2 linked regions of the Homo sapiens genome follow. The protein of the gene in region 2 interacts with the protein of the main gene of each other region in a pairwise test. Each region holds a gene or a part of one and is shown on either strand. Other genes may lie near its edges. The genes, in order: FOXP2 and TSACC.

The links.
Region 1: the proteins of TSACC (region 2) and FOXP2 interact in binary tests that used the Homo sapiens proteins (3 or more experiments, as listed by UniProt).

Annotation. Positions count from the first base shown.
Region 1 is NC_000007.14:114,690,537-114,694,523, reverse strand, and holds the end of FOXP2 (forkhead box protein P2), read right to left. Parts: 3' UTR 759-3,987; downstream 1-758. UniProt on the Homo sapiens protein: Transcriptional repressor that may play a role in the specification and differentiation of lung epithelium. May also play a role in developing neural, gastrointestinal and cardiovascular tissues.
Region 2 is NC_000001.11:156,344,511-156,347,495, reverse strand, and holds the end of TSACC (TSSK6-activating co-chaperone protein), read right to left. Parts: intron 2,917-2,985; coding exon 2,788-2,916; intron 729-2,787; coding exon 514-728; 3' UTR 501-513; downstream 1-500.

The sequences.
Region 1 (3,987 bases), on a different chromosome or scaffold from region 2:
TGAACTAGTTGATAAAGAAAAAAACGTAATGTTCAAGGACATTAATCTCATGTCCATACTTCTTTTTAAAGCCATTTTTTAATCCTGTGGAAAGTCCTTTATTCAAGGTACCCTTTCACTAGGATGACAGAAAATATTAAGTTATGCATAAAATTAAAAAATTCTCAACAGATTCATTTTCCTTTTACTTTTGATTGTGAGGAGATTTGGAAGTTAGGTTAAAGTAGGAAGTGAAATTTTCTAATGCTGAGGCCCTATCTTGCCTGTTTTTTTCCACTAATATGGGTCTGGAACAGATCCCTAATATCCTAAAAAGCATTTTCTTGGAAGCTACTTACCTATCTCTGACACATTCCCCTAAACCATGGCTGGATGCTGTGGGTGTGACTGATATTCAGAGGCAAAACAAAAAAAGACAATAAAGCAAAAAAGTCATAAAGTTAAAAAGAGTAATCATGTTTTCCCCTGGCATTTTTTAATGTTCAGAATTTATAATGTCAAATTGTATCAGAATAAAAACACGAAAACATGAGATAAGTGTGTGGGGAAGCAATTTGGAACCTGAAGACAGTTTTTAATGGAATGCATTTGACAAGCAGCCTCCATCTTTACATTTGAGTATGGTCTGGTTTATGAATCCCAAATCCCTAAGAAAATAATTTTAAACAAATTGTGGGACATGTGTATACAAATTTATGACTTGGCTCTGGCATGGAAGAATGGTCTCTCCGAAAGAATAAAATCCTATTGGTTATAAATGGGTCAAAAAGAATTAGATTTTTTTATTTATACTTCAGAAATGTAATCAAGTGAATGAAATGGTTTCATATACATTTTTACATCCAACAGCAGTGACACACTGTTCATACATTAATTCTATAGTAAAATGTACATCCTTCTTTTTTGCTAAGTAAGATATGCCAAGTGTTCATGGACAAAAAAACCTTTCGTTGCAACCTGAACTAGTGAAATAACAAGGGTAAGCCATGTTCCTTTCAATAGCTTTATAGACTTAATAAAGCTATTGTCCAAATGTGTGTTAATACTGGCATGTGTAAGATGAAGTCTCAAAATTCTCAAAAATGTAAATGTCCAACTTGAAAACTTTACAAAATATCATATTGGATTTTGCGACTGAATCTGCCCAGGGACATTAAAGTCCAGGATGGTTTATGTAAGTGTACTTCTGTAGCTCTATTCCTAGCTGACTATTCTTCGATTCCCTAATCACAAAGAAATGCATTCTTATGAAGTTAAGCAGCTGTAGACACAGAATGCTGATGACATTTTCTCCATATCTGAGTTATCTAAAGAAAACCCAGTTAGTGGTAATTCTACCAAATACTTGTAACATTCACATAAAATTTTAATTGATTTTCAAATAGTACAACTGTGCCACGAATCCAACCACATAGAATATAAGCCTTAAGCCCACTAGGTTTAAGCAATTGTGTCTTTGTAGACTAAAACTATGTAAAATAAAATCTGATAACTCCCTGGTGTTAGAGGTAGACAGTTTTCTTTCAAATCCTAGGTTTGGTCCTTTATTTTATTCAGCAGTGAAAGCCATGAATACAGAACGAATAACAGCTGTTACAATTCTCAACCATGACTTCTAACGTCAGAGAATTCAAAGTATGAACATAGTACACAGTAATGAAAAGTATCAAAAATTAGTTTACCTCAAAAAAGATAAATAAAACAGGTATATTCCACCAATACATAAACAGATGTTTGTGCTACAGTTTAAAATTTGCTGTATACAAAAGATCATAGTCCCCATAATCAGCTTATGATAGAAGCAAGAATACATGAGCCATTTAAATTGTCAGACATTATGCTTTATAAGGTATGCACAGAAGTTCAAGCAATAAATACATACATTAGTTCAAAGCCTTACAATAGCTACGCAAAGCAGATGCAGAAAAGCAGATTTGCTATTACTAGCAAGCAATGATATAAGAGTAAAAATTCATGAAATGCATTAAAGCAACATTTTTCTTAGAAAAAGTCTGGTCATTTATGGGTCCACCAACATTTTTACATAATATGCACAATTATCAAAATACAGACCAAGCATTTCAGGAAACTCCAAAAAACCTAAAATCTATTTTCAAAGCAATTGCAGTTTTGGAGGTTTTTCTGGTATAATGTGCAAGCAGCTATTTTTTAAAATTGTATTCATATAAAACCCATGCAAAACTCTACAGGTATATGCATTCTGTGGCTGAGACTTCCTTTCAAAAGTTTTCTAACTGAGGTATGCATACTTTAGCATTGTAGTCTTAGGCCACCCTTCTGATGGTACAACTCTCGCAGTTACTTCCAGTCCCTCAAAGCCTTTTGAACATGCACCTGAAAGACCCATTTTTCCTTTCAGATAATCCTTACAGTAGGATCCTAGATGACTGAAAACCATCTTTCACCATACCCATCTTTCTTTTAATACCATATTGTAAACTTCCGGTTCGTTGATCATGACCCAAAGACAAACATAATGAAAAGTAGCAGTTACTGTGACGTTCTCACGTTTCATGCAATCTGCCATAATTGTTCTAATGTTTTTCTTTTTTTTTTTTTCTTTTTTTTTTTTTGCAGAGGTAGAAGCTTTCAGAAAGCCTTTTGGGTAAGTGGGAAAACCCTTTTGAAAGCCGTTATGTCCTTTTATTTGGTGTGATAGATGACTGGGTATCTCTCTAACTCTATTTGCTGACTTCAGCAAAGAATCAATGATGAGCTTAGTTTGCAAGAACCGGTTCCATCACATGGAACGGGAACGTATGTTAAGCTCTAGCAGCCACCTTCTGTCAAAACTGTTTGTAAAGCAATAACCATAATCAGGTTATGAGGTCCCTTGGTTGGGGGAAAAAGTATTATCAAGACTTGGCACAGCACATGAAAAGCAACATGTTAAGTTTCTAGGTTTTAAGCAAACATCTGACTATGCTATTTTCAACTACATCATAACTCATTATCATAGTTTTGGGGTTTGGAATTGTCAAGAAAACCAGCATTCCAACAATTTGGCCTGTGCAAGTCTTTGAAGGGAGTGTATTGTTAGTGTTAATATCCCGTATAAGCAGAGGCAGAATTATATGTAACTTTGGTTTGACTGAAAATAAATACCATGGACTACAATTGCTATAATCTTTGCTTTCAGTGTAAAAACTCAGCTAGATCACTTTAAAATCAATATGAAATTAATTTTTGGCTTTACTAGACCTTTTATGTTTGGTTCCTACTTTTTGTTTTTTCATTATAACTTAAGACTATAAAAAAATAGTACACAACAAAGATTAAGACCATACAAGACATCTTCTAACAACATGTATTCACCACTGAAAATAACTGACTGAATGAGGGAAAACAAAAACACAAAGTACTATATATATAACAATATGCAATCTGCATTTGCATCAAGTACATAATCGTTTTGGTCAGTGATCCACATTTGTTGCTTTCTAGCATATCATAACTTCCACTGCGGATTTTGTCCTCACCTCTGTCTTTAATGAAAGCAAATCTTCATTGCATTTAGATGGACTTTTGGCCTCAGAAGATTACTCTGTGACTGAATTAACATTTTTTAGTTGTGGTTTTTGTCATATTTGTTTCTTTGTTTAGGGCTAAATGAAAAGATCCCAGAGGTCATCAGAAAACAGCAGGTAGTTCATGGAAAAGGTTCCTTTGTACTAATTGAAGTTACAGAAGGCTGACCAAAGCATGTGGCTGCTTCTGTCCTTGAGCTCTTGGCCATGGTTAGAGTTGGCTTTGGTTTGCAGCTGTAGCCTTTGACTGTGTTTGCAGGTAGACAAAGCTTTATCACAAGGAGGTAAAGAGTACAGTTGTAAGATCTATGCAGATATGCAAATGTTTCTATGGTGCTTGCACAGATAATGTTAGCTTAGGATTGCACTTTACATCTTAACACTAACAGCACAGACTGGAAGCCTAAGGTTTTAGATGGTTGCAACAGTCTAATTACTG
Region 2 (2,985 bases):
CAGAACCAAACCATGAGCCAAAATAAACATATTTTCTCTACAAATCACCCAACTTTAGGTATTTCTTTATAGCAATGCAAGAATGGACTAATACGTCTACCTCTAGGTCTTTGTCCAAGCTTCCCAACTGATATGGAACTACCTGACTTCATCTGTCCATGCCATCCAACCCCTCCCTTCTTCAAGTGGCATCATGAAGCCACTTTCTCCAGCAAGATTCTAAAATTGGTCCAGTTGTATCCTAGTAACCTCCAGTGTTAGTTCTTAACCTCCATCCTCTTTCAGAATACCACTACATTTTGCAATGAATTGTCTGCTTTGTTAGACAGTAATCCCTGCAAACTCCTTTTGTAATATGTAACCCCAAGTGCCTTGTACAACGCTTTGCACTCAGTGAGCACTTATTATGAACCTGTGAACAAACTAACCATATGTAGAATACATATACCCAGATTCCAACAAGGGTTTACTGGGAAGAGAGAGGAAAACAACACAATAACTTTGTTCCACAATTCATTTACTGAATTGGGGCAGGTGATTTAACAATGGATTAGGAGATAAGGCTGGGAGAGAAGAGTTATTGCTTCCCCTCCCAGGAGCCAGTTGTGTCACAGATGCCTGTAAATGTTCCAAAACAGCCATCTGTTGTTGGGCGAGCTGGGTCTGAAGCTGGAGGTTTGCATACATACATTCCAGGAGTCCTAGGCATTCCTTGGGCTTGTGATCAACTCCAGAAGGAAAAGCAACGGAGGTGCAAGGGAACAAAGGAGAGAGATTTGGTAATTGTACTGAGGTTGGAAGGACCCTAATAAAATGACCTCTCCAATCTTTCCAGGCACAACCCAACCCAGACATACCTTTGCCCAGCTGTCACCTCCCAGTGAGGCATACCTGGCTATCCTATTTTAATTTGAAATCAATCACTGGAACTTATTACCCCCTCCCTTGTTTCACTTTTCCCATAATATTTATGGTCATATGGCATATTTTATAATTACTTAATTTTTGTCTAAGTCCCCCTTCTAGAACGTAAGCTCCAGGAAGGCAAGGATTTTTATCTGATTTGTTCACTACTTTAACCCTAGCACCTAGAAAAATGCCCAGCATATAACAAATATTTGATGAGTGAATGAAATGGTCTGGGAGGGAGGCCTACCTTCCCTAGAGCTCAGGGGATACCTCAGCCTCCTCTGTTACTTGACATAGTGTATCATTAGCAGTGACCTGAAGTTCCCTAACTTCAACCATTCTTGCTACATTGGTCCATTGTTTTTTTTCTTTTTCTTTTTTTTTTTTTTTTTTGGAGACGGAGTTTCACTTGTCACCCAGGCTAGAGTACAATGGTACGATCTCAGCTCACTGCAACCTCCACCTCCTGGGTTCAAGCAATTCTCCTGCCTCAACTTCCTGAGTAGCTGGGATTACAGTCATGTGCCACCATGCCTGGCTAAGTTTTGTATCATTAGTAGAGACGAGGTTTCACCACGTTGCCCAGGCTGGTCTCGAACTCCTGACCTCAGGTGATCCACCTGCCTTGGCCTTCCAAAGTGCTGGTATTACAAGTGTGAGCCACTGCACCTGGCCAGTCCATTCTTTTTCTAATATTTTTCTTTTTTCTTTTTTTTTTTTTCAATGGAGCCTTGCTCTGTCTCCCAGGATGCAGTGCAGCGGCACAATCCTGGCTCACTGCAACCTCCACCTCCCAGTTTAAGCAATTCTCCTGCCTCAGTCTCCCAAGTAGCTGGGATTACAGGCAGGTGCCACCATGCCCAGCTAATTTTTGTATTTTTAGTAGAGATGGGGTTTCACCATGTTGGTGAGGCTGGTCTCAAACTCCTGACCTCAGGTAATCCGCCCGCTTTGGCCTCCCAAAGTGCTGGGATTACAGGCATGAGCCACCGAGCCCTGCCAGTCCATTCTTTTGTTTGTTTTGAGATGGAGTTTCACTCTTGTTGCCCAGGCTGGAGTGCAATGGCCCAGTCTTGGCTCACTGCAACCTCCGCCTCCCAGGTTCAAGCAATTCTCCTGCCTCGGCCTCCTAAGCAGCTGAGATTACAGGCACCTGCCACCACGCCCAGCTTATTTTTGTATTTTTAGTAGAGACAGGGTTTCACCATGTCGGTCAGGCTGGTCTGAAGCTCCTGACCTCAGACAATCCACCTGCCTTGGCCTCCCAAAGTGCTGGGATTACAGGGATGAGCTACCGTGCCCAGCCACTTTTTCTAATATTTTACACAGCCAGTTAACCTTGGTAATTATATTATCTGCTGTTTGTATTTTTATCAGTCTTGACTTCTTTGTTGGACTCTGAGGTCCTCAAAAACAGGGGTTATGACTGTCTAGTTAGTGCCCTGTTGGGTTCCCCATAGCTATGCCAAATACCCACTGACCTCCCCAAGGGAAGATGAATGATGAAAATTCAAAGACCCTGAGACTGAGCTAATAGTTTCCTTCTCTAGCCACCGTTTTTTAAAATTTTACCTTCCCAAGTGAACAGGGGTAAACCTGGCCATCTTTTAACTAACATTACCAGTAAGCAATGAGAGGTTCACTTCACTCCTGCCTAGTCTAGCAAAAGTGCTAACAAGCAAGGAAACAATACAAGTTGGTAGAACTGGGATGATAATGATATCAATGAAACTAAATAATCAACAAGCTATCACGGAAAGATCTATAGATGCCTAACATAGATTTGGCTCTTGATCAATAGGCGACAGCTCAAGCCACCTCCTCCATGCAACCCTTCCCCCTGTTGAGTCCATTAGAAAACCCTCCCTACATCCTTACCCGAGGGCAGCTTTGTTGTCTGGATGTTCAGAAAAGTGGCTGGTGGGGAACTTGCTTGAAGATTAATATAGCTGGGGGAGGGTTTTGCTCTACAGAGAGGCACAGCATTAGCTTCCTCTTTGGCTGGAACTAAATCAGAGATAACTAAATCAGAGCTCATTCCAACAAGGGACAGCCTTTCTAATTAGATCCCTGCAC